Homo sapiens: one gene and its partners. The protein of the gene in region 3 purifies or fractionates together with the protein of the main gene of each other region. This does not show direct contact. Each region holds a gene or a part of one and is shown on either strand. Other genes may lie near its edges.

Region 1 (7,029 bases), on a different chromosome or scaffold from region 3:
TCTAAATTTAATTTTGGCTGGCTGTGTAACGTAGATGTTGTTGTTAGCTAATACGTGACAAAAAGATGCCTGATAGTACTTGCTAAGTTGGAAGAGCAGGTTAGTTTGGGCATACTTGTAAACATCCTGAATTAGTTAACATTACTTACAGGCTCATGAACTTAAGTTTGAAGCCCTTAAAGAAACTGTGCACTTTGAACTGCCTGACCTTTAAATGATGTTCTTCAGTTGTTTGACAAATACTATATGCCTCCCTTTTGGGGCGCTTGTGAAACAGCGAATGGCTGTTGTAGGTGTTTGGGACACAGCAATAAACAAGAAAAAGTCCTTGCCCTCATGAAGCACATAATCTAGTAAAGGGAAACTAAAGATACAATGTCAAGTACTGATGAATGTTTTGAAGAAAAATAATCAAGTTATGAGAGAAGGAACATTCTCAGCAAGGGAACGCATTGTTTTCGGCACTAAGTATCTCCTGTTGGAGGAACACAAGAGTGAACCAGTGTGCCTTAAGCACAGTAGAGGGAAGTGGTAGAAAATGAGGTCAAAAAGATAGGCCAGACAGGATGGTGCAGGGCTTTAGAGACTGAGCGAAGACTTTTTCAGCTGGTATTTGATGGAAAGCCTTTGGAGAGTTTTGAATGAGATTGGGGAGGCGGAGGTGGTGGCAGGAGGTTGTGATCTGATTTACATTTTAAAAAAACAAACTCTTTCTGGCAGTGGTTGGAGTAAAATAGGCAGCAAGGTGATAGATGAAGAGGCTTTTGCAGTAGTCCAGGCAAGAGGCGATGGTGAATTGTACCTTGTACCAGGGAGGTAGCAAAGGACATGATGAGACATGGTCAAATTCTGGATATATTTTTGAAGGTACAACCAAGAGGACTTCCAAGACATCCAAGTAGTGTCATAGAGTAGACAGAAATATGAATTTGGAGGTGAGGGAACAGCTTGCTGAACATAAATTTGCAAGTTAAGAGTGAATGGTATTTAAATCGAGAGATCAAGTGAGATTACCTAGGAAGGCATGTAGACTGTGAAGAGAGGTACAAGGATGAGCTCTGGAATCTTCAAATATGTAGAGATGTAGCAGAGAAAAAGCATAAAATGAAACTGAGAAGCAGCTGTCAGTGGAATTAGAAGAGAAAGAAGGAGCATTATATTCTGAAAGTCAAGTCAAAACATTTCAAGAAAGAAGAAGTGGGAAATGTCAACTATGGAAAGTGGAAAGTGGTCAGTTATGCTCAATGCTATTGAGAGTCAGGTATAATGAAGACTTTGAGTTGATTTTTAATCTTGACAAGGTGGAAGCTATCGATAACCCTGCCAAGAGTGATTTCAGCTGATTAGAGTAGGTTAGGCAGAAAATGGGAAGTGAGGAGCTGGAGACAGTATAAACAGTCCTCTCAGGAGTTTTGTTGCAAAGGGGAACAGAGAATGACGTGATGGCTGGAAGGGGCACGAGGTAAGTGTTCTTCAGTATTCAGTCCTCAGCTCTCATCCTTTCTCCCATCAACCAAAGTGAGAGCTTTACGCACTCATTCCCCCACATGTGTCTCCAAAGCTCTACTTAGCTCCAGACCCTCATTTCCAACTGGACCATCGTGAAGTAATGTTTTATACCCATGCAGATGGACATGTTATTAATGAAAATATCTGACATTTAATGAGTACTTTTACTGTGTGCCATAGATTGTTCCTAAGCCCCTTTGTGATCTCACTTAAATTTCAGGAAAATCCTTTGAGACAGGCATACTTCTTATCCCCCTGCAATAGCTTTTGCCATATTAATGCTATAAATAAAGCAACCCCCAAAAAGCAATAATTTATTCTTGCTTATGATTCTGTAGGTCAGCTAGGAAATGACTTCATGGGCCTAGCTCCAAATTGTAGTTTCGTTTCACTCCATTCTACACATTTCTTGTCCATTTTAGACCATTCCTGAAAATTTTACCTGCCTCTCCATTTTTTTCTGCATTGCTTCAACCAAACTACTGCGTTTAGACTTAACTCTCTCCATTCATCCTGTTAACAGTGATCTCTCCAATATTGGTATATGGTCATATAATTCCCCTGAATCTTTTAATGACTTCTTTTTACCTACAGGATGTTTAAACACTTTAGCAGGTACATGAAACCTTTGTGATTTGATCTCTCTTTCTTCATCTCCTCTCCATCCACTCAGTGTTTCAACCCTAATTACTAATGGCCTTTTTCTTGTTTTAGTGCCTGCTTCTAAGGCCTCCTTACCTTTGTACTCCTCAGTCTTTCTGCCAGGGCTCCACACTTAATTACTACTCTTCAGATAATCTTCAGGCTTTACTTCCTCTGTAAAAATTCCACCCACAGGCAAAATTGCACACTGGCTCATCTAATTAATCTCTCACAGCATGTTTTGGTTATCTGTTGCTGTGGAACAAATCACTGGAATGCGTAGTGACTTAAACAACTTTTATTATCTTTTACAGTTGTGTGGGTTGACTGGAATCACTTAGGTGGTTTGTCGTCTATGTAGCTGTAGTCAGATAGCAGGTGGGGTTGGACTCATCTGGAGGTTTAACTCACAGTCTGGGATGGCTGAGCCTTAAGTCTCAGGTCCTCTTCAAGAGGCTTCTTCAGCTGGTCTCTCCAGCAGGGTAGCTTGACTTCGTGGCTCATGACTCCGAGGAACACAAAAGCAGGAGCTGCCAGGCATCCTTAAGGTGTAGGTCTCAGACTGGTGCAATGTCACTCTGCCACAATCTGTTGGTTCAAGGGGCTCACACAGGGACAACCCAGATTCATCATGGGACAGATCTATGTAAGGACATGAACACAAGAAAGTATGATTTCTTGGGGCCATCATTAGAGATTAGTTATTAGATATGAGTGCCTAATATATACTTCTGTTATTAGGACATTACTTTTTAATCATTTCAGTACCAGACTATAGTTGCGTGCTGCATAATGGCATTTTGGTGAACAGTGGACTGCAAATAAGATGGTGGACCCATAAGATTATAATACGGTATTTTTACTGTGCATTTTCCATGTTTAGATACACAATACTCACCATTGTTTTAAAGTTGCCTATAGTATTCAGTACAGTAACATCCTGTACTGGTTTGTAGCCCTGAAGCAATAGTCTATACCACATAGCTTAGGTGCGTAGTAGGCTATACCATTGAGATTTATGTGAGTGCAGTCTATGATGTTTGCATGATGATGAAATTGCCGAACAATGCCTTTCTTAGAATGTATCTCCATCTTTAAGTAATGCATGACTGACTGTGTAAGGTTTTTATGGGCAAAGCTATCTTACCCATATTTTTATCTCTAGCACTATTACAGTGCCTGCTATATAGTCCCTCAATAAATGTTTTTGAGTAAAATGAACAGATAAGTAGTGATACAAAGTTTCTTACACATATCTTGTGATCATTCTTATATAAAATCAAGTATTCACCTTAGGCTTTTAAAATTTACTTTATTTTATTTTATTTTATTTTTTGAGATAGAGTTTCACTCTGTCGCCCAGGCTGGAGTACAGTGGCGCGATCTTGGCTTACCCAATCTCCGCTTGCTGGGTTCAAGCAATTCTCCTGGCTTAGCCTCCCGAATAGCTGGGATTACAGGTGTGTGCCACCACGCCTGGCTAATTTTTGTATTTTTAGTAGAGATGGGGTTTTACCATATTGGCCAGGCTGGTCTCAAACTCCTGACCCCAGGTGATCCGCCTGCCTCGGCCTCCCAAAGTGCTGGGATTACAGGTGTGAGCTACCGTGCCCGGCTTTAAATTTTTAGTTAGATTAAATATAACCTAAGTTGTTTTTTTTTTTTTTTGAAAATTATTAATTTGGGGGGAAAATAGGACTAATTTGAGGACATGTAATAATTTTTCTGTGCTCTCGTCCTTAGAGGTTGTATATGAGAGCTTAAATGATCACTTTAAAATACGAAGAATTGTGGTAATGTCATGTTTAATCTTTACATTTTAAAAACCTTGGCTTAGTTTTTTTTTAAATATTATAAAAACTCTAATAATTAAATAGAATGTAAAGGAAATGTATACATATGAATCAAGAGGATTCTTGGATTTTTAAGTAACTTTTTTTATTAGAAATGAAAATATTTTCCCTTTTGACGTTACATAGAAACCTGTGCTGAATTGTCTAGTCAATTAACGTGTATTTATTGAGACTTAAACACATGCCCATAATGTGCCTGGTACTGTTTAAGAAATAAATTAAAAATATAAGATACACAGAGATCCTTTTCTTACTGTTTATTGTCCAGTATTTATTTTTAATTTGCAGTGCACCCAAAAGAACTTAAAATGTCTTATAAGAAACACAAGGGTAAGAAATAAACTAGAGTCAAGGGTGAAGCTAATAGAAAAATGTATGCTGTCAAGCTGGGTACAGTGGCTCAGGCCTATAATCCCAGCACTTGGGGAGGCTGAGGCGGGAGGATTGCTTGAGGCCAGGAGTTTGAAACTAGCCTGGGAAATATAGCAAGACCTGTCTCTACAAAAACATAAAGCATAAAAAAAAATGAGCTGAGCCTAGTGGCATGTGCCTGTAGTGTTAGTTACTCTGGAGGCTGAAGCAGGAGATTCACCTGAGCCCAGGAATTTCAGGATACAGTGAGCTATGATCGTGCCACCACTCTCCACCCGGAGTGACAATGAGACCCTGTCTCAAAAACAAACAAAATGTATAAGCTATAAACTTTTGTTGTTGTTGTTGTTGTTGTTTTTGAGACGGAGTCTTGCTCTGTCGCCCAGGCTGGAGTACAATGGCGTGATCTCAGCTAACTGCAACCCCTGCTGCCCGGGTTCAAGTGATTCTCCTGCCTCAGCCTCCTGAGTAGCTGGGATTACAGGCGCCCGCCACCATGCCGGCTAATTTTTGTGTTTTTAGTAGAGTCGGGGTTTCACCAGGTTGGGCAGGCTGATCTTGAACTCCTGACCTCAGGTGATCCACCTGCCTTTGCCTCCCAAAGTGCTGGGATTACAGGCGTGAGCCACCATGCCCGGCCAACTTTGTTTTAATTATCTGAGCAGCTAGTGCAAAAAGAGAAACCTGGGTGGACGTAATTATTTATAGATTAAAAACAAGGCAACTGCTTAGGAGATGCACAAATCTGATAATTAGATGAGTTTTTAAAAAAATCCTGATGAGATCCCCTCATACAGAAGACATTGCTGTAATGAAGTGTCTTCAGTCTGTGTCTTCAGATACATACTTGTTTTAAAAAATGTTCCTTGATAGAAAGCAAAAGTATATTACTGAAGTATAATTTGATAAAAGCAATTTGAATGGGAGATCTCACACAAAATAATCTACAAACTTGATTCTCTCTTGTTCCTGGAGTGTACTTCCCACCGTCCTTTTAATCTTTAGATCTAATCTCAAGCAGAAATTTCTCTACAAACCTTTTCCACATCTTCCTAAGTCAAAGCCCGCATTTATAGATTCTCATAGAACCATGTATAGGTTTGCGGCACTTGTCCTGTTAAGTGTGAATCTAATCAAGGGCAAATGGTGATAAAGGCCTCACATTGCTGCTCTGTTTTACAACTCTAGTAATTTTTACCTGACAAAAATACATCAAGGCAGGCATGTAAAGACTTCTAGACTGCTACCTTGTCCTTCAAACAAAAATTTCTTTTTTTTTTTAATTAAAAAAAAATTTTTTTAAGTCTCACTTTGTTGGCCGGGCTAGAGTGCAGTGTTGCGATCTCCGCTCCCTGCAGCCTCCACCTCCCAGATTCAAGTGAGTCTCCTGCCTCAACCTCCCAGATAGCTGGGATGACAGGCATGAGCCACCGTGCCTGGCCTAAAACAAAAATTTCATAGTTTTCTAGTTTAAGAAGGGAATTGAGCATGCTGTTAGCATTCTCTCTCTCTCAATTAAAATGACTATTAAGAAATTTTTAAAAAATAGTAAGTCCATTACAATGAAGAGAAAAAGAGAGGTTGGAAGGGCCAACAGAGTAGAAAGGGACAGAGAAGTTGGAAGCTGATTGATGGATGAACTAGAGTAGATGAATCTGGAGCCCAGAATCCAGAGCTTTCAAAGCCGCAGCGGAGCTGGAGCGCCTTTCCTGGCAGAACCCCAACAAAGTTCTTGGCTAGCAGTTGGAAGTAAGGAGGGTGGAAATGAGAAGGTAGTGCTAAAACATGGAAATTAATTTAAAGCCTGTGTATAGACCATCCCCTTAGCCAGCTGTCCATGACAATGGACAGGCTTTTTGAGATAAATTGAACAAACTGCCTGAGAAGAACTGGGACTGCTGGGTATGGCTTTGGGACCCCAGGGTTAAGCTCTCTTCCAATGGCTTTGAGGGGTCCCTGCCCTAGGGCTGGCTTCCCACTCTAATGCCAGGTGCCAGTCAGCAAGCCTCCCACATACACAGAGCTCCCAGCCAACATTTCTGTTTTGGAGATAGTATTATCTTGAAAACAGACCAGCTGCTTAGAATAGTGAAGTTGGAGACGGAGTTTAATCATCTGACATATAAGGAAAAGCAGAACGTGAATGACAGAGACCAAGAGAAACACAACAGCGGATCCTCAAGGAAACAGACGAGAACTTTTAAAACTTTGGTTAATGTCATCTTGGAGACTTCAGAAAGTTTTTGCGTTCATAAAACCAGCACATGGTGCTGTGGAGAAAAAAGGAACGATCAAGAAAGAAGCAAGCATTCTTAGAAATTTAAATGTGATTGCTGTAGAGAAAAATAGGAAGGCACCAGAAGATAATGGCAAGGAAATCTTCCAAAATGCAGAGGGAAATAATGATAAAAAATATGAGACAACATACAGATAAATAGCTAATATTTACTGAGGCAATTTTTTTTGTCAGGCGTTATTCAAAATGCTTTGTGTTTTAATTTATGTTAATCCTCACAACCACATTATGAAGTAGGTGCTCTTATTCTCATCTTTTTAGAGAGGCAGGCATTGATAATAAGTCACATGGCTAGCAAGTGACAAAACAAGCTCAAACCCAAGCAGTCTATTTCCTCTTGGCCTTACTGTATGGCAC
Region 2 (7,029 bases), on a different chromosome or scaffold from region 3:
TATCCAAAATATTATCATTTCAATATATAATCAACAGGAAAGAATAGATAATTTACATTATTTATTAAGTCTTTGAAATCCAGGGTGTATTTTAGTTACAGCACATCTTAATTCAAACTAGTCACATTTCAAGTTCTCAGTGGCCACATATGGATGGGCAGAGGCTACCATATTAGATAGCATAGGTCTAAGCAAGTCCAGAAGTATGAGACCCCCCAATAGCTAAACATGAATGGGAGAAAACTTAGTTTCTTCTAAAAGTTGTATTTATTTTTCTGATTTTCTTGAATGCAATGGAAACTGCAACCTGACTTTTAGCAAGCCCCAGGCCATCTCCTTGCATGACTTTAATCACTGGATTTTTCTTCCCAAAAATTAAATCATTGGATCCGGAGCAAAATGTAGATTAGGCCCCTCAATGTTTTTTCCCTTAAATTATAACTGAACCCAAACTCTTCCTGTCATTAATTTTAATATCTTTTTTTTTTTTTTAGACGGAGTCTTGCTCTGTCGCCCAGGCTGGAGTGCAGTGGCACAATCTCGGCTCACTGCAACCTCCGCCTCCCAGGTTCAAGCAAATCTCCTGCCTCAGCCTCCTGTGTAGCTGGGATTACAGGCACGCGCCACCACGCCCGGCTAATTTTTTTTTTTTTTTTTTTTTTTGTATTTTTAGTAGAGACAGGATTTCACCATGTTGGCCAGGGTGGTCTCAATCTTCTGACCTCATGATCCACCCACCTTGGCTCCCAAAGTGCTGGGATTACAGGCACGCGCCACCATGCCCAGCTAATTTTTGTTTTTTGTTTGGTTGGTTTTTGAGACGGAGTTTCGCTCTGTTGTCCAGGCTGGAATGCAGTGGTGCGATCTCAGCTCACTGCAAGCTCCGCCTCCCGGGTTCATGCCACTCTCCTGCCTCAGCCTCCCGAGTAGCTGGGACTACAGGCGCCCACCACTGCGTCCGGTTAATTTTTTGTATTTTTAGTATAGACGGGGTTTCACGTTAGCCAGGATGGTCTCGATCTCCTGACCTCGTGATCCGCCCACCTTGGCCTCCCAAAGTACTGGGATTACAGGCGTGAACCACCGTGCCCGGCCTTCCCCAGATATCTTCAAAGCAACTGCTAGTCCTGCTTTTGCACATTACACTCTACATTCTCATTGCCCCACTTAACTAACCCTCCCTCATGTCCTTTTCTAAAGATGTAGAAGACTTTGAAATAGCATAACATTTAAATGGTCACAAATCACCTGGCTTGAAAGTGACTAATAATAGGAAAATCAGACCTCAGGACTGAGTTCAATTTCAAGATTCTCCCACTCCACTTTGCTAAGAGGGAAACAGAAAAACATTACTCCAGCCACACAAATATGATACTGTGCAAGTATCCCACTCTTACTCATTCAAATCCTACCCATTTTTTCCCATCGTGGAACAGAGTCTTGCCAACTTATACCTCTCTCCAATAACCCATAAAGATGGTGATTTGAATTTGGGCCAAGATTTAACATTTTATGAAATACAAGAGGAGAGTTTTCTGCAAAACACAGGATTTGCAGACAAGGAGACTTAGGTTCAAATTCCAGTTCTGCCATTTATTACCTCAGAGAGGTCATACAACTTTCCTGAAGTTGTATGACCTCTCTGAGCCTTAGTCTCCTCGTTTGTAAAATGAGAGTTAAAATCTACCTCATGGAATCATTGCTAAGATTAAGCAAGATATATAAGTAGAGCTTGTGCACATGGTAGGTACTTGGAGAATGTTATTTCTCCTTCCCTCTTACTCATCTGGACAAGTTTAACTAGAATTCTAAACAGTTAAATATGTATCAATCCTTTGTATTAAATATCTTGATGGTAAAATGTTAAAATATTGATGTGAATAACAGCTGGTATTGAATATTCAAATTAGGGGAACTCTTTCATTGTTTTAAGATAACATCTGTACATTTAATCTGTGCCATGCAATAAAACAGCTTTTCCTGAAACAGCTTTTTAAAAACTATTTTTAAGAAATTCATAAGTTACTTTTAAGAACATTAGCTTAGAACATCTTCCCCTTTCACAACAAATTAGACATTAGAGCCAAAATTGCCCAAATTGGTATAGTTTCTATCTCCCTACACTTTAATCAAGATGTTTGTCTTTATATCAGCAAAAACCGCTACTTAAGTGAGATTCCTGCATCCCAATAAATGTATCTGGGCATTTGGTACTTGAGAGAGGATTGGGTTTGACAACACCCAGAAGCTAATGAGGATGTGCCTTCTCTCAGACCTTTGCATTCAGGAGCAAGAAAGCAGAAATACTTTGTGGACTCCTTTTCAGACACTTTACAAAATACAAAATTTTAACCTTGTGAAACACAAAATAAATGCAGGATAAATGTCCAAACATTTTAGCCCCTACTGTTTTTGAAACTGAATAAAGCCATGATAGTGAAAAATATTTTCCAGTCAGTGCTTTTTGGAAGCTATTTAGTAGATATTAATTTGATGGGTTAGAGATTGCTATTATCCCATTAAATGAAGCTGTTTCTACTTCATATTCAAATATATTTCAAGTTGAACTTGCTTAAATCTAAAATGCTTACACAAGCAAACTGTGGAAAGAATTTAGTCACGCAAAAGAAAACTTTTTCTTAATCCTGGATAAGTCAACTCTAAGAAAGCTGTCCAGAGCCTACAGAGCAAAAAGGACTTTCCTTCCAGCCTCCTCACCATGTCCAATCTAGTCCAGATGTGAAGAGTCAATTTTGGTTTTAAACAAAATTTGCATGCAGCAGCATTAGAACTAATGAAAACAGTATCCAGACTAAGACGTGCATACAAAATCTTTCACATCATGAGAAACTAAAAATTTGTTAAAACATCAGTCGGCAGGAACAGACATCTCAAGCTCCACTGATAAGGGAAGCAAAACTGGAACTACATGCCGCTTTTAAAAGTGTCTCAAATTTAAGCTCACTCAAGGACTATTAATAGACAGTGTCAAACTGACATGCCGTTTCATCATTAAATCATCTTATTGGTTTGCAAGTTTCCAAGCCTCAGGGCTTCATTATGCATCAGCATAGGACAACACCAGAATTTGGGGACAAAGACAACATCCCTTTTTGAAAGAGGTGGTAAGAATAAAAACAGGTTGGCCAACCTTGGAAGCCACCGCAGTATGGCTTCCCATGAACCAAAAAGGCAATTGAATTGTATTTGTTTTCAAGGCATACGTTTGGAAAAATAGCACTTTTTCCAAGCATGTGCTTAGTTAGAACAAATGATTTATTGCTTAAAACCCAGTCTTTTACTCACACGCTTGTGAAAATAAGAAGAAATTACCTATTTCACCATAGATTATTAAATGGACGTTAACAGTTATTGACAATCGAGTCTTGTGATAAGAAATTAAAATTATAAAGTAAATCTTCCCGTCTTTAAATTCTAGGTGGTAGAGTTCTGAGAACACTTACAATGAACTTTAAGGGAGTAATTGATTATGCTTTTGAAGTCTCCTATATTCACATATTGGCTGAAAGTAAAGCATTTTAAAATTGGAGAATGAAATGAAGAGCAATAACATTTGTTATATGAAAACTGTGGTTTTACTTTTAAAATGGGATTTTAAAAATGTATTAGTTGGGTCGGGTGTGGTGGTTCACACCTGTAATCCCAGCACTTTGGGAGGCCAAGGCGGGTGCATCACCTGAGGTCAGGAGTTTGAGACCAGCCTGGCCAACATGGTGAAACCCTGTCTCTACTAAAAATACAAAAATTAGCTAGGTGTGGTGGCACACGCATGGGATCCCAGCTACTCGGGAGGCTGAGGCAGGAGAATCGCTTGAACCCGGAAGACAGAGGTTGCAGTGAGCCGAGATCGTGCCATTGCACTCCAGCCTGGGCAATGAAGCAAGACTCCATCTCAAAAACAACAACAACAACAACAACAACAAATGTATGAGTTGGATGAGTTTAATTTTTTGCTTTCTGTTTCTGCCTAAAGATAAACCAATTTAGCATATATTGATATTAAGATGTCTGCCATATTTTGAACGTTAGCCTGTTGATTTACAGTCTTCCAAATAAGACTGATGCCTGAAGCTCATTTTTTGGTTAACTGCTTCTGTTAGTTGCACACCTTTTCCTACCTTCCTCTAATCTTAAGTCTATTTAGTCATTTGAAATATCAGTTTTCACCTGTTAGTATTACTAGCTATGTTTGCTATATTTCACAAATACATTTCTAAAACAATCCATTAATTAGAATTGGACATTAATAGTGAGGCATGTCATTCTCTGTAACAACTAAGATTTTAAGTAGAAATTATTTCACTAATTCATCTTTTATTTCTCAAAGTATTCAAGGCTAAAATTTGGAGTTCTTTAATTTTCATTCTAAGAGGCAAGTATTAATTATACTAATGAGTTCAGATGTTTTTATTTATTTTTCCTCCCAATGACCTATTCTTAATGAACATGGTATTATTAAGAGACATTCCAGTGAATCATCTCCTGTATTTTTTTACATGCATAAATTATATTCCCTAAGGCCAGACTCTTAAACAGACAGATGAACCTAATAGTCTCAACAATGATTTAAAAACTGGCCCTCAATTTTCTTCATTCATTCCTGATCTCGTGGAGTTGTGGTCCTTTACTTGGTTTTAACACAGTATTCAACAAATTGTTGTTATAGTTGATAACATCTACTCATTCTTTTACCTGCCTTAAAAAGTGTAATAAAAGTATTCATACAAAGTATAAAATACATACAAGTATAAAAATGTATAATACATTTAATTTACATGCATCTCTACAATGACAAGTATGATTTCTTTAGAAACTGATGCATACATTTTCACTGTTTTTCTTTCATTATATATCAGTTTTAATGCATACTACTTAGAAATTAGAATCATTTTGAGTTTCTTGAAGAGCCTTGATAATTATAGTCTCAAAATTAAGGAACCTAGACAAACAAAGTTAAAATATTTATGACATTTTGCTTGGGCATACATTCATATTTCCATTAATATATAATTGCTACATTATTAATAAGTGACATATTTATTATAATGAAACACCTCCACGAATTTAGTGAATTGTAATTCTTATCTCTTCCTCTGAAGTATTATACTTAGAAATACGTATCTTCAGTTACTGATTTGGGTACGACAGGGAACCTGGCTGGATATCATTATTATTTGATATATGCCATATAACCTTCTGTTTGGGGAATATAAAATCCCTCAAATTGGAAATGTTCATGACTACCCATGGGATAAATCCAGCTGTTTTTGTTTGGGGTCCAGAGCATAAAAACAGAAAAGGAAAAATGCAGCTTCCCAACAGACCACTACCAAACCACCATAACAGACAGTCTGCTAGAAGAGAACTGATCAGGCCATTATGTCACCGGACAACAGGACAATCATCTGAGTTGGGATGCTGAATCACGGCAACTCCAAGACATCTGGGATTTTTTTTTTACCCTCACATTGGATACAATCTATGGAATATTACTACATTTAGTTCATTTGTAATTTACAATTTTTGATGACTAAAATTGGAAAAGGATTAGTACATTCCTACTGGCTTTACATATTAGTATTGGGCTGTCACCATTACCCAGATTATTTAAAATGTAAATTTTCTTTACTCACTAGATTGGAAGCTCCTTAAGAGCAAGGGCTACTTCTGTATTATTCATCTTCATGCCACGTCACTTAGAACCTAGTAGATACTCAATAAATACCTATTGAGCTGAACTGACCTTGTCTGAGTAAAAGTGAGTCCAATACACAAGTTACTAGATTGTAGGTTGGTTTGACACAAACTTAATTTTGAAACTAAAAATGAACTAAAGACACACTGCCTGAGAGAAGCAGGCTCTCTATCCCTGTATTCCTATTCTCACGAATATAGGTAAACTAAGTTTCCATTAAGCACAGTATCTAAAGATGCTGACACATCTGCTAGTTTAATCTCTTTGAATTGCCTTTCATGTATGACCTAATGTTTAGAAAATGACAAGGATCACACATGTAGAGTGACATCCCTGATTAACAGTGATGAGCAGAGGCCTCAGACCCAGGGGAAGCAGAGAACATACATATTTAGTCCATATCACCAAGGCAACACAGTGTACCTCAGCACAGTAGAAAAACAAGCACAGATGTTGATGTTGAATATTTAAAAAGTGTTCCTTACACCCACTGTAACAGTGGTTAGACACAAAGATGAATTATTTCAAAAACCAAGCTATTAAAAGTTTTTACTTCTCTAATGTATGTATATGTGTGCTTTGTTTTTCATTGCTAATACTCCATAGGCAGTCTTGGTCAAAAAACATTCTCTTAGCAACAAAAATAAAGGTTCAAAGTTTGATTCTGACATAAATGACTTGTATATTCTTTTTAAGAACATAAGGAGCTACAGGCCTCAAATAGGGTGCCTCCTCCCCCAAATAGGGAGACATCTGAATTTGAAGCCAGTAAGTCAGCAAAAAATTAAACTATCTGTTGAAGAAACCCCCCTGGGAGATGACTTACAAATGAGTTCCTGATGAGACTATTTATACTTTCGTGGACCAGGAATAAATAATATGGTAAGCTGCAGAATAAAACTGTCATAACATAAGGAAAACTACATGGAACTTGAAAAGGATATAGGAAATAAAATATCAGGGCACCTCTATGGGCTAGGAAAGAGATGAGATTTTGGCAGAGATAAGCATTCTAATTAATGATGAAGCAGGAAAAATTCTCCAAGTCTTACCTCAGCACAACTGAAATATTACCCCAATTTATCAATCTTCCTTTGCTCATACCTGTGTTTACCAAGTAACTTCCTGTTTCCTAATTGTTTACCATAGGCAGACCTATCACTATGAATTAATACATTTATATTCTAACTGGGGAATCTCCAAGTCTCTCAAGTTTCATCAGTGGGAAATGGTTTCTCAAGCTGAGGGTCAGACCCTGGATCTATGTCCACCTATGTTACATCCTGGGAGACCCAGCTGGAACAGCCAGCCAA
Region 3 (7,183 bases):
GTGAATGAAGCAGAAATTTATATATAGTATTATTCTAAATTTGAATAGTAATTTAATTGACCAGAAGGAAATATACTGTTTTCAGGGTCTCTCTACATGGTGGGATCATAGGTGAAACAGTCTGGCTCTTTCTCCCCACCCAAATCTCATCTTCATTGTAATTCAAATTGTAATGCCCACGTGTTGGGGGAAGAACCTCGTGGGAGGTGATTAGACCATGGGGGTAGTTCCCCCATGCTGTTCTCATGATAGTGAGTGAGTTTTCATGAGATCTGATGGTTTTATAAGGGGCTTTTCCCCTCTTTGCTTTGCACTCTCTCTCCTGTCACCTTGTGACATAATTTTAAGTTTCCTGAGGCCTTCCCAGCCATGCAGAACTGTGTCAATTAAACCTCTTTTCCTTATAAATTACCCAGTCTTGGGTATTTCTTTATAGCAGCATGAGAATGTACTAATACAACAGGTAACATTTATCATCATCTATATACTTTTCAAAATTTCTGCGGAAATGTTTAATTTATAAAAGCAAAATAGCTTTTTAATATATGTTAAAAAACATAAAGAAGTAAATAACTATCCAAAAAGCTGCCACACAGATATAAGTACTATTAATGTTTTGGCAACATCCAAATATTTTTTTCTACATATATTCTGGATAGCATTTACTGAGCATTCACAATGTATAATGCACTGTGCTGAGAAGTCTTGTAAATATGTAAGATTTTATAATCTAATACTATGCTGCTATTGACCTGAGATACTGCATTTCTAACAAGTTTCCAGGTAATGCCAATGCTGTTTTTCTGAAGGCCATACTTTTCAATAAAAGTGTTGTACATTAAAATATTGTTATATGGAGGTCTGTGAAGGGGAAACAGTGCAGGGAGGGGAAAGAAAAAAGGAGACTTGGGCTTTCCTTTCCTTGAGAATCAATTGTCAGATGCTCAGAATTCATTATGCTACATTAAAGCTCAATTGGGAGAAATAAGTAAATTGTGGTCTCATAACATATTGGGGATAAATCCACTATGAAGGCAGACTACTTCCTCATTTGAAAGGTAGCAAAATTGAAGAACTTTAGTTACTGAGTCCTTCCCATGCATATTCCATTCTTCACTTAGTGTTTTAATTCCTGTTTCTTGCCTTTTCTACATCCATCCCATAGCATGTAAAGTATAATTATCTTCATTGTTGTATTTCCTAAATCATCAGTATTTGTTATAATTTCCTCTTTGACCGAAAGATTATTTAAGAACATTAAAAAAATTCCAAGTGTGTGATTTTTCAGGGTTGAAAATTATTATTTTCTAGGGTTTTTTTTTTTTTGTAATGTGGTCACGAGTGCTTTCTAGAAATATGTTAAAGTTTTCTCTACATTTGAGTATAAAATCATTTAGAAATGCTTCAGGATAATTTGAAGAGAATGCAAAAATAAGGTAGAAAAGTAATATATATATTACACACATATTTTAACTATTTAACTACCTTTTATCTCTTAACTTCCCATTTACTTGATTTATCAAAAGCTGTAACTGCGCTGGGTTGGTGGCTCACATTTGTAATCTTAGTGCTTTGGGAGGCCGAGGCAGGAGGATTACTTGAGCCTAGGAGTTGGGAGACTGCAGTGAGCTATGATGTTGCCACTGCATTCCACCCTAGGCTACAAAGCAAGACCCTCTTGTCTCTAAAAAAAGAAATCATAAATGTTGAAGTCATAGTCCAACATATTTTTTTGCTATATTCTCTTTAATAATACATACAGAAGGATTACTCAATAAATTTTAAATACATAAAATGCAACAATTTAAATGTACATGTTTTTAAATAGATGTATATCGATGTACATAAGTAAAACTATCACCCACATCAAGATCTGGAACATATATTTTATATATTAATGTCATATTATTTACCATATAGTTTGTTAAATGTTACATCCTATATTGTATGTTTTACATAAAATGTCTTATGTTTAGATTTTAAGAAAAATGTTGCCATTTCTATGATTTATAGTTTCCATTATCTTTAAACTCTTTGATCATTTGTTTTATACAAATGTATCTCAGGTTAGAGATTGATTTTTGACCCAATTTCAATTGTAATAGGGCTATTTAACCAGTTTATAGGTCATCTGTACTGTCAATCTACTTTTTGCTAATTTTAGTGTCTTTTTGCTATTTTTCTTTTTACCACTTCTTTTCCAAACATTGGAATGTATATATTCTATTTTTGTAGTTAACACTTATTTCCATGTCAAATTTACTTGGAACTATATGATTTACTTGGAACTATATGATGCAGTAACTACTGTTTTTCCCCATGCATCATGTACAGAAAATGAGGATGTATCCACCCCCTCCCAAACCAGTGATTTGGAAGTTTCTTTACAGTATCAGTAGTAACATGGACAAACTTGTTATTTTTTTCCTGCTATACTTAAAAATAAGGGAAATAAAACTGTACTGTTTTCCAATTGTCAGATTTGACATTTAGAATGTTATTTGTCAAATCTACAGTGACAAAGCCCTTTTACTTAGGTTTAGCTTAAGAACATGCGTATTTGTATCTACAATACTACATGCTAAAAATAAAACAGTATTTGTCCAATATATTGAACATGTGGTATGCCCTTCCAGTTTAAACGTAAACTGAAATTTTACACCCAGCTTATGTTTCTATTTTTGTATTTAGTTTTAATGCCCTATACATAACAATTTAAACTTAATGCTCCTTAACTAGTTTTAATGCATACCATCAGTTCTTTCATACAATTGCCTCCCTATTCTTATTTTAATTCAGGTTCTCTGTTAGCTGCAGTAAATCCTTCAGCAAAATTTTCAGGGAAAGTTCTTGGTTGATATACTTTCCTAACCCCTGTATATCTAAGAATGTCTTCCAGTTTCCTTTGTAAAGAAATGATAACTTGGCAGAGTATATAATTCTTGGCTCAAAATTATTTTCCCTTAACACTCTAGATATTGTTCCACTGTCTTCTGGCATTTAGAATTGCAGGAGAAAAATCTGAGGTCAGCCTGACTTTTGCCCCTTTGTAAGTAACCTGCTTTCTCTGACTGGATGCTTGTAAAATGTTTCGTCTTTGAAATTCAAAAACGTCACCCGGATATGTCTAGATGCTGCTTTCTTTTCATTAAACTTTAAAGGTATCCTATGAGCCTTTTCCATTTGTAGATCTAGTTCGTTCTTCAATTCTGGAAAATTTTTTCAAGTAGATCCTTTATTGTTTCAGCTCCACTTGCTCTGTCCTCAGTTTCAGGTATTCCTATTATGCATAGATTGTATCTCCTGGACCGGCCCTCTAGATCTCTCTTTTTCTCCTCTTAATTTCTTTTCCCCTTTTCTCTGTATTCTGTGACAATTTGTCGTTTTGCACTTACTTCAGTAATTCGATTTTGTGGCCAATCCAGCGTGCGCCCTTCTGTTAACTCTCTCAACTTCCTGGTATTTTCCAAGCGCTCTAATAGTACCCTCTTTATCATCGCGCATAGGTGTTTAAGCTCCTGTATTATATGATTCTCAATCCTTCTTATATCTTGTTTCCATCTCTATATCCGTTTCAAGAGGAGGCATTTTCTCGATTATTTAGCGCTGCTCCTTTTTTCTCAGGGGCGGTATTACGACCTTGGAGACAATAAACATAATTTAATTCCACACAGCCCCAAACAGCCCAAAGATTCCCATTGATAATTATCGACGGCTTTATTAAAATGCGTTATTTTTCTTTCTTACCTTTTCAGTTGCTTTTCTTAGAAACAGGGACCAAAATCAAAGATTAAAGAGGTCCTCTGAAGCAGGGAATGAAATAGACGTTGAAAACTATTCCCGTTACGCCATCTCTGCGCGCCTCACGTCAGGGCCAAGAGCCTAGCGCGTAGCTTTATGGCTGACTCGGCTCTGGCGCTCTAGCCAATTCCGAGGCTGCAAACTCCGCTTCTCCGCTCGCAGTCTGGTTCCTCCCCTGCCGCCCCGCCCATCACGGCAGGGTCACGGTAGCGCGCACGCGCAGCACCCCATTTAAGTTTCTCGTCTTTGCAGTGGCTTTGCTTAGATCCGGTGCCGCCTTGAAGGCGGGGCTGGGTCCCAGCCGTAGCCAATGGAGCCCCGGGTGAGGGTTGAGGGGTGGAAGGTGCCTACTAGCCGGTGCAGGTTTCTTCTAGCGCGTGTGCTGGGGTACCTGGTCGTCATGGAGGCGGTATTGACCGAAGAGCTTGATGAGGAAGAGCAGCTGCTGAGAAGGCATCGCAAAGAGAAGAAGGAGTTGCAAGGTGAGGCGGAAGGAAGTGGGAATCTGGAAGCCGCCGCGACTGGGGGAAGGGCGCGTGGCGGGTCGATTCTGGGGAATCTCAAGGCGTGACTTATCTGGATCACCCTAGACTTCCCCTAGTAGCAAGTGGCCTCTTCTCTCTTCACCTACCCCGGCGGCCCTTTAATTCCCCAACCTTCAGAGGCTTCCCCTTCTGAGGCCTGCGGCGTGCCCCCTACCCCGCGCCGCCGCCGGGGTGCAGGTGTCTGAAAATACCTAGAAGCCGCCGTCTTGGTCCGCTCCCAAACCCACGATGCCTCCCTTTTCTATACCTGCCCCAGTTACCGATACTTGTCCCTAATGGGTGTATTTTGAATGGACCCGCCTCAGTTTAGGAGGTTCAGAAAGGATACCGGAAAGATTTAAAACTGGCTACAGTCAGGTTTTTTTCCTTCTCTTATCTCGCCAAACAACCGAAACATATTCAAGATTTTGTTAATGAAGTTTTTTTTTTTTTTGGTCTCAGCTTTATCTGGGATCTTCTCTCTCTGTAGCTGCCTGTTACGTGATGACTCTTTCTTCCATAATTACTTTTTCTGTACCCTTCGCCCGTTACCATCCCCTTATTGGTTCCTGTTTCTCATCTCCTTTTACTCCTGCGTGTCTGACTTAATGATTTTAATGGCTTTTCAGCCAAAATTCAGGGCATGAAGAATGCTGTTCCCAAGAATGACAAGAAGAGGAGGAAGCAACTCACCGAAGATGTGGCCAAGTTGGAAAAAGAAATGGAACAGAAACATAGAGAGGAACTGGAGCAATTGAAGCTGACTACTAAGGAGAATAAGGTATGTGAAATAAATGTTTGTCGTTGCCTACACCATTTGAAAACAGCTGTCCACTTCTGTTAAATGTTAAACTGCTTTTTTTTTTTTTTTTGAGACGGTGTCTCGCTTTGCAAAACACGCTCAATCTTGGCTCACTGCAAGCTCCGCCTCCCGGGTTCAGGCCATTCTCCTGCCTCAGCCTCCCGAGTAGCTGGTACTACGGGCGCCCGCCACTACGCCCGGCTAATTTTTTGTATTTTTAGTAGAGACAGGGTTTCACCATGTTAGCCAAGACGGTGTCGATCTCCTGACCTTGTGATCCACCCGCCTCGGCCTCCCAAAGTGCTGGGATTACAGGCGTGAGCCACCGTGCCCGGCCCTGTTAAACTGTTTATTATCTAAAATCATAAAATTGGTAGGGAAATGAAATCACTTAGTTATGCTCATGCATCACTTCTCATTAATGTTTTTGTGACCAAGTTTACAGGGCAGTGTGTTTCTATAAGGGAGATCGGCAAAGAAAGTGCTATACTTCTTTACCTATTTACTTGCCCAAAAGATGAAGCTTCACCAAATCAAAGTTGGAAGACCAGGCATCTGATCCCAGAATTGCGACTGAATGGGATTGTAACCTGAGCAAGGTTACTTAATCTTTCTGAGCTCAAATTTTCCCACATATATAATACGATACAAATATTTCTACACTCTAAGCACAGGTTTTTGTAAGAATCAAGAAAGTGAACGTGAAGTCATTTTTGTTATAAAAGTGCTTTATTAACAAGTTGTAATGAATGAAATTTTACTGATGTTTCTTGGGTAAGTTGGAGCATCCTAACTTTCATAATTTTAACTAATATTTATTTTATCGTTGGATCTAATATATATGTGTCAAATACTTTGGTTTATATGTATTATCTCATTTAACCTCAGTAACACACTGTGAGGTATTACCTATGAAGTAAGTATACATAATCCCATTTTTCAAGTGGGAAACAGGGTTAGAGAGATTAAGAACTTTGTCCAGGAGTCGTAACAGCTGTTGATTGCCAAAGCCAGAATTCCAAATGAGAACTATCTTACTCCAGGAAGTGAATACTGAATTCTGTTACAGCTTTGTATAGTGTGGTATTTATTGTATGGGTTTTGGATATGAAGGGTCATATAGACCCCACAACCTCACTCCATCTTTGATAGAAAGTTCTTATGTCTATGTAAAATCTTAATCTGCCATACTTAAATTTTGGTTGATTTTTGGTTTGCTGTTGACAAGTACAGCTTGTCTGTGCTTTTTATAATGGTCCTTACATTAAATATAGTCTAAATTTCTTTAACTTTGTTAGTTATCAAGTTCCCAACTTTCCTTGCCTTTAATGTACTTCATCTCCAGGTAACAAGGCATATATGATACTCCAGGCGTTAAATTGTGTTGTGACAATTGTGTTCCTAATTGTCTCCCCATCTTTTCTATTAATGAGATAGTTTTGTTTGCTCCCTCAGACCTTTCCATTTTGAGGTTTCTTTCCCAGGTTTCCAAGGACAAAAATGTTTGATTCATAAGCTACATGGAGTCCTACTGTTAAAACACAAACTCCCATTTTAGTTTGAACTATTTATCTGTTTCATTAATTTAAATTGGTTTTCTTTTCTGAATACTACCAAAAACTAATGCCATTGCTTTTTTGTTTTTCAGATGCATCTCTTTTATCTTGCCTATTGTCAATATAGATGTTTGTAAATTTTAACAGCTTCCTCTGAAGAATCACAGGACTCCTAATTTCACTATAGTTGATAGCCACTCTTTGAAGTCTCTATCTGATTTTGATATTTTGATCATTTGGGACACAGCCTTTGCAGACTTCTGTCTCTGTGTATTAAAGGCCTTGAGTTGTTCTATGCATGTGTTATACTAAAAACTGGCTTACCTTAGAGTTGCAGTAATAATGGCTACTCATCCTTATAGTTAAAAGTCTAGCATCTTTTTTTTTACTCTAGCAAACACACACTAGCCATTTAGGATTGATTATAATATCAAATGATATTACAAATTAAATATATTTTCTGCCTGCAGTTATCAGTTTGTAGATGGAAAAGGGTAGGG
Region 4 (7,029 bases), on a different chromosome or scaffold from region 3:
AGAAGTGCAATGATCTGTATCATTGCAGAAGTATACATCATCATTCACTGAGATCTTATAAGGTGCCAGGCAACATGCTACGTTGATCCATATGCCTTTATTCCTCACAAATTAATGAGTTAGGTACTATTACTATGCTATTTAATAGATGGGAAAATAGAGGTTTAGGGAAAAATATGAATGACATTAACACCTGCCAGCACCATTACTATAGTCATCTTTTTCTGAGCACATACCATGCACTAGGTAATGTACTCACTGTTTATATATATATATATATATATATATATATATATACACACACACAAATTATATATCATAAAACATTATATGTATTTATAATGTATATTATATTGTATTTATTTATAATATATGTATATTATATGTATGTTTATATTTTTATATTTTTATATATTATTTATGTATATATTATATATGTATATATGTGTATACTATTATATATGTATATATAACATACATATATTATATATGTATATATTTATATCTGTATATATTATATATGTATATATTTATAATATCTGTATATTTTATTATATATTAGCTCATTTAATCCTTACTATGGTCTTATAAGGTCAATACTATAGTTAATCATCATTTTACAGATGAAAAAATGCGAAACTTAAATTATTAGCCCAAGGTCACCTTGGGCTGGGAAGTGGCTAAGACAGGGGATGAAGCTGGGCCTCTGCAGTTAATATCTTTAAGAATAAAAAGCACAGGAAGACAGATACCACATGATCTCACTTATACTTGGAATCTAAAAAAGCCAAACTCATAGAGGTAGAGAGTAGAATGGGGGTTACCGGAGGCTAAGGAGGAGGTAACAGGTGGGTGAAGAAAGGTGACATGTTAGTCAAAGCACACGAAATTCCAGTTAGACAGGAGGAGTATGTTCCAGTGATCTATTAGACAGCACAGCGACTATAGCTGATAATAATGTATATGTCAAAATTGTGTGAAGAGTAGATTTTAAATGTTCTCACCACAAAGAAATAAGTCAGCAAGCTGACAGTTAATTAGCCTGATTTGATCATTCCACATTGTATAGACATCATAACATCACCTCATCACCTTGTATCCCAGAAATATATATAATTATTACTTGTCAATTAAAAATAAAATAAACATTGTTTACAAAAAAGGATAATAGGAAGAAGAAGATGCAAAGAAAAATCTCCATTTGCAAATCTTTGACTCTTCCAGTAGTAAAGACCTGACAGGGAACTAGCTCTCTCTGTCTCAATCTCGGTCTCAACCTCTCTCTCTCTTTCTCTCTCTCGCTTGTCTCTCTCTCTCTCCATATATATATGTAGGTATGTGGAATCCTTGGCATTTCTGTGGCTAATGGAACACTGAATTGAGCTAGGGGAAGAATGGGGCTTACCTAGGAGAGTAATTTTTGCTCTGATTGTACTAAAGCTCATTACTATTTTAGTGCCATAATCTATCACAGGGGAAGCAACACATTCATTGCCTGGAATAACATGCTAAGTGGAACAGAAAATCAGGTAAGAAAATAGTGTGGTTAAAGCATCTGAAAGACTTAGGAACAAAGAGACTGAATGATGGGGCTAAAAAAGAATAAAAAAGAAGAAAGTTGAGAAAAAAAACCACATTGATTTCATTCTATAGATAGGCAAGCATAACAGAACAACATAAACAGCTGCCCAAGGATTATTTTTATTAAAAAAAAAAAATACAGGCTGGGCATGGTGGCTCATGCCTATAATCCCAGCACTTTGGGAGGCTGAGAGAGGCAGATCACTTGAGCTCAGGAATTCGAGACCAGCCTGGCCAACATGGTGAAACCCCATCTCTATGAAAATTACAAAAATTAGTTGGGCATGGTGGCGCACACCTGTACTCCCAGCTACTTGGGAGGGTGAGGCAGGAGAATTGCTTGAACCAGGGAGGTGGAGGTTGCAGTGAGCTGAGATCACACCACTGCACTCCAGCCTGGGTGACAGAGTGAGACTCCATCTCAAAAAAACAAAAAAAACAGACCAATGAAGGCTTCTTTCTACTCTACATGGAAGGTAGTTTTCTATTTCTATAACATATTTTTTATTCCTATAACAATATATCATCAAATATCTGCTTAGAAATCTGTTGACAGAGCCTGGGAAATCTTGATGAATGAATAAACAGGTAGACCAAGCAGAAACAATTTCTTGTTTTCATAAAGCATTCACCCCAATGTTAATATTTCATATTGGCAAATTTAAGCAACCTAACAGTTGGACCATGTAAACTATGGCCAAAAAAAAATTAAACTGCCAAGTAAGTATGAAACGAAATGGATATTCTTGACTGAACATATTAATATTTTGACTTCCAACTGCTTAAATACATAAGCTCTGTGCTGACTTGACTTTTAAAAAAGTTAAACCTATGACTTTTTAAATGAATACTTTCTGATCAACCATAAGAGATGATCACTCACTCATTTATTGATTAAATAACCATTTAATAAAACATCAGGTAGCTCCAACAACCCTATAACTCAAGTTGCAACAGTGTCCTTTCAGGAATGAGTAAAGGAGCCTGTTTGGGGGGAGGATGTAAAAGTCGTTGTCGAGGTCAACATTAAGTTTAGAGCCAGATAATAGGGTAACTGCTTGATCACCCTTGCTGTGATTTTCTAGCAAAGCTCTTTGTTTTCCATTCCTGATGATCACTGCCCTTCACTTTCCACAGTAACTCTCCCCTCGTACTGACGAACAGGAAAAAAACACTCAAGTCCTTTCTTACATAATGTGTTTTTTTGCAGGAGATCCAGAACTCAAAGATCCTTGATGCTTTTTATCAATTCCACTAAACGTCAAGGACAGGAAATAAAAACATTTTTCTCTTCCGACTCAAACACAATACCCCTTTGTGAAGCTGCTAAAAATCTAGAAATGGCAAATCTGGGAAAATTTTCAGGTGAGCGATAGGCATCAAAATATTTCATTTTTGCTAAAAATATCTCTTAAGTTTTTCTTAGCATTCCAACTCACATCACACTGAATTTGAGTACAAAGAACAGAATCTGTTTTACCCTTGTATTGGCAGTGACTTTGAGGTTATACAAAGGAGTCAAAGTAGCCTGTCCTATGACACTGAAGTCCCTGTAGGCATTTGCCAGTTCAGAGCAGTTCCTTTCAGAATGGAAACAGGAAAGATGGAAAAGGGAAGAGAGATCAATGCAAAATTCTGTATCTTCATTACTTGGCAACTGGAGTTTCAATCAAGGACCCAAGAGGTAACTTAGGCAAGTTGGGGAGTCCCTGAAAGCTAAACCCATGACAGTGAATCTTGTGTAGTCCTCAGCAGCTGCCCCAGCACAGATAAATGAGGCTTTCTAGGAAGCATAAGCATCCTAATGGCAGTAAGGCTGATCCAGTGTCCAGAGGGAAACGTGGTGGCAACAGAAGACACGTGTGGTCTGGGGTAGGCTTTGATGTTGCAGCTCCACAGCAACAGAGACACATGAGAAGAGATCAAAATAGAAGAACCACCCAGCCTTGCTTGGAGAGGAGGTGGAATGGAATGGAATAACTAGGTAACTAGGTAATAGAAAACCAGGTAACTAGGTAATGGAATAATTAGGGAACCACTGGGCACCTGGAGGCTTCTGGGCTCTTCTCTACTCTGCAGGCTTCTCTCTGACACATTAGAGGCCTCCCAGACTCAACTGCTCCCCTCGACAGGAGCAGAAAATAGACGACAGCTACATTTTCTTCAAGTCTTGCCAAGAAAAACCTTGCAGGGTTAAGAACACAAAAGCCTTCAAATATCTTGCTACTGAGGTTCTTTCTTATAAGTTTCAGTGTATACCCACACACAGAGAGTGAAGAAAATTCACTTTGATTCAAAGGGTTCAAGAATGTTCACAGTCTTTCGAGGAGTCACTATGTTTTTAAACTCTTTCAACAGCTCTATTTGTTCTCAAAAGAGTCATAGATTTATTTAATAGCAGTTTATCTTTCAGTTGGCCCATTACAAGCCGGAGCATAACACGTAAAGCATCCAGCATAATCACAGGTTTGGAATTGAGAAGGCTTGGTGGGGGTGGGGGGGTATCTGAAATATAAAGACAATATAAAGGCAAAGAGTTTGTCATGTTATTTGCTGCAGGGAAGCATGTCCATAGGTGAAAAAGTTGAATTTCACATAAAAATATAGAAGTAAACATCTGGAGAAGAAAGACTTTCATGGCAGGTTTGTGAATACGCCCCTAAAAATCCATCGCCCATTTTAAAGAAACAACTAGGGTCTGTGGAGCAACAGGGTGAAACAATCGTTCACTTAAGATACAGTAACATCTTTCTACCAAGTGATAAAAACCTATCACAAAATAAATACACACCACATGTGCTCCATAAAAGTATAACACAGAGGCGCCTTTGTTTTTTTAACAGAAACCTGGCCAAGATGTGAAGACCCAGACTGTGGCGCTATGTTTGGGACTCAGAGGTCTGACACGGGAGCTGAGACTCAGACCAAAGAATTAAGATAGTAACAACATGTTGTCAATTAATCATGCTCATAAGGTGGTCAAAATGACCATGAGGACACATTTCAGTCTACCGGACAGTATGCCAGCTTTCATTCTTGTGCTCAAAGACAAAGAAGAAAGCTTTAATTTGGTGCAATATGGGCCGAAAGTTTAGTTGTCATATATATTAAACTCAGCCTACAGTCTTACTTGAGTAAATTTCATGAAAAATCCAATTTTCTTAAATGTAAGTTATGTTAGGGAAAAAACACTATCTCCACAGGAGCTCAGAGATGTCCCTAACAATACACTCAAACATATTTCATGTATTTTATGTTTTTATGTTTAAACTTATAAATGTAAATTAATATATTTCTATTAAAATTCATAAAATATATATGTACATTTATAATATAAATTAAATACCTTCAGCTGAGTTAGACATTCTGTGCCTTGAAGGACACCAGTTATTTTAGGAACAAATACTCTTTATTGAGGAAGAAAGTGCTGGATCCACCAATGGAATGAACACCCACATCTCTTAGACATAGTTCCATGCGTTACCTTCTTCCCCACAAACCGCATGTTTGTGCAATTAGCTTTCATCAAATCAACATATTAGTCACCAAAAAACATGCTGATGAAAACAAAGACAGGCTAGTTGCTTATTTCTTGAAAGTGAACAGTTCCTTTGGCCATTATATAAGATAATCAGTTTTGCCAGCATCGAAACAGATAATGCTTTAAAAATAATGTGAGGACAATGTTACAATTTTTTCAGTTCTTATTTTCAATTTATTGGCGTTGACTCATATGAGCCCTATATAGCAAGTTGTTCTCTCTTACTGTAGATACCTGCACTTACATACATATAAGACCATCCTCTGACTTCAGGAAATACTGAGGTCAGGTTCCCTGGCAGTAGGGAAGCTGCTATGATGGGATGGATTTCTGGAAACAATTGAAATATCAACGTGGAATAAACTTTATAAATACTTATCTTAAGGGAGTGTTGGCAGAAGCAAGGAAAATGGGTCAACTTCAGGAAATAGCACAGCCTATTTAAAGGCAAAAAAATCAAGAAACAAAAGGGAGTTCAGTTGCTGGTAAATCAGTTTTCTCTTTCTAACAAGTTTATTTATATGCATTTTTCTCTTCTTCCTATAAGGAAGGTATTTTTTCCTTCCTTTAAGTTTTTACTGTTAAATTCACACATTCACATTTTTTTAGTCCTTAATTACCCTGACTGAGTAATTTGAGAGCAGAAACCTCTGGCCATCAGGAAAAAAAAAAAGAAAAGAAAGAAAGAGAGAAAAACACATGTCCAAAAATTCCCTAAGCTTTTCCATATTCCTAAAAGCAAAATGTAACACTAGCAGTGTAAATAAAATCAATACACTGAGAACTCCTAAGGCTGGTTCTCAATGGAACCAGCCATTCCATTCTTGGAATGAAAACCTGAAACGGAAACGAGGAAGATGAAATGAGATTCTACCTAAAAAGACTCCAACAGATTGAGGGCTAGTGTGAAAATCCCAGGATGTGTAATGAGGGGAGGGGAGTAAGCTCTATGGTCAGAGCTCCCATCCAGCCCAGAGTGGCCCAGCAGAAGTCAGGCAAACACAGACGCAGTCCACATCGCTGCTCTACCACAAGCATGGCTGAGTTCGGCTTTTCAGATGTCGGACCTGGGGTGGGCCCTAGGAGGGGCTCAGAAACCAGAGCGACTTTTCAAGTTGTGTCCTTTATGGTATTTGCAGGGAAAGGGCCAACAATAGCCAAGGGGCTGTTTACCAAAGTCATTCTCCAGCACCTCCCACAGAAACGCTTGTGGAAATCACTGCCAAAGCTTACATGGGAATCAAACAGAAGGAACTGAGCACAGCCATGTAAAACATGCCCCAGTCATTTCGTAAGCTCTGTTTCTTCACAGATGGCTGCTGTGGAAGAAATGACTGCTTACAGAAAGCAGAGATCCAAAAATTAATCCAGCCACTGGGATGAAAGCAGGATGAAAAATGATCCTGTTCTATAATTCACATTGGTGATTTACCAGGTCTGGGCTATAAGACATCTAGGGATAAAACTGCTACTCAAAAGCAGATCTGGCAAAGGTGAGGAAACGGTGTGAAGGGCAGGTACTGCTGAAGATCTCTAGAGTCAAAAAAGGATTCACCAAATTAAAATAGAATGTTTCACAGACCAGTAAAGCCAGATGGGAGTTGGTAGCTCATACATATCCTTGTATTTCCAAGAGATGGGAGACTCCAGACTCTGAAAGGGACCAAACACAAGCTCACCTGCTGCGGCAGTACCCAGAGCTGAAAAGAGAGGATGCCAAAGGAATCCAGCCTTCCCGAATCTACACTCTCAAGGCTGGGCTTTGGGACTCTAAGGGTCTAATAAGCTATGGCTCTTATTTTATATCATTACAACAACTGCTTTGGTTCCTTCATTCTTTCACTACTTACCTGTGCTTCTTTACATTTCACAGGTTGATGATACATTACTGCTTTGGATTTCCCTTC

The links.
Region 1: the proteins of OTUD6B (region 3) and BTBD1 purify together in Homo sapiens (affinity purification with mass spectrometry; 3 studies listed by BioGRID and IntAct, with this or other methods). This does not show direct contact.
Region 2: the proteins of OTUD6B (region 3) and MCTS1 purify together in Homo sapiens (affinity purification with western blotting; 2 studies listed by BioGRID, with this or other methods). This does not show direct contact.
Region 4: the proteins of OTUD6B (region 3) and LIMCH1 purify together in Homo sapiens (affinity purification with mass spectrometry; 3 studies listed by BioGRID and IntAct, with this or other methods). This does not show direct contact.

Annotation. Positions count from the first base shown.
Region 1 is NC_000015.10:83,057,251-83,064,279, reverse strand, and holds part of BTBD1 (BTB/POZ domain-containing protein 1), read left to right. Parts: intron 1-2,434; exon of another isoform or gene 2,435-2,793; intron 2,794-7,029.
Region 2 is NC_000023.11:120,614,096-120,621,124, reverse strand, and holds part of MCTS1 (malignant T-cell-amplified sequence 1), read right to left. Parts: 3' UTR 1-7,029. UniProt on the Homo sapiens protein: Translation regulator forming a complex with DENR to promote translation reinitiation.
Region 3 is NC_000008.11:91,066,184-91,073,366, forward strand, and holds the start of OTUD6B (deubiquitinase OTUD6B), read left to right. Parts: upstream 1-4,160; 5' UTR 4,161-4,201; coding exon 4,202-4,283; intron 4,284-4,954; coding exon 4,955-5,106; intron 5,107-7,183.
Region 4 is NC_000004.12:41,541,132-41,548,160, reverse strand, and holds part of LIMCH1 (LIM and calponin homology domains-containing protein 1), read right to left. Parts: intron 4,708-7,029; exon of another isoform or gene 4,425-4,707; intron 2,947-4,424; exon of another isoform or gene 2,792-2,946; intron 1-2,791.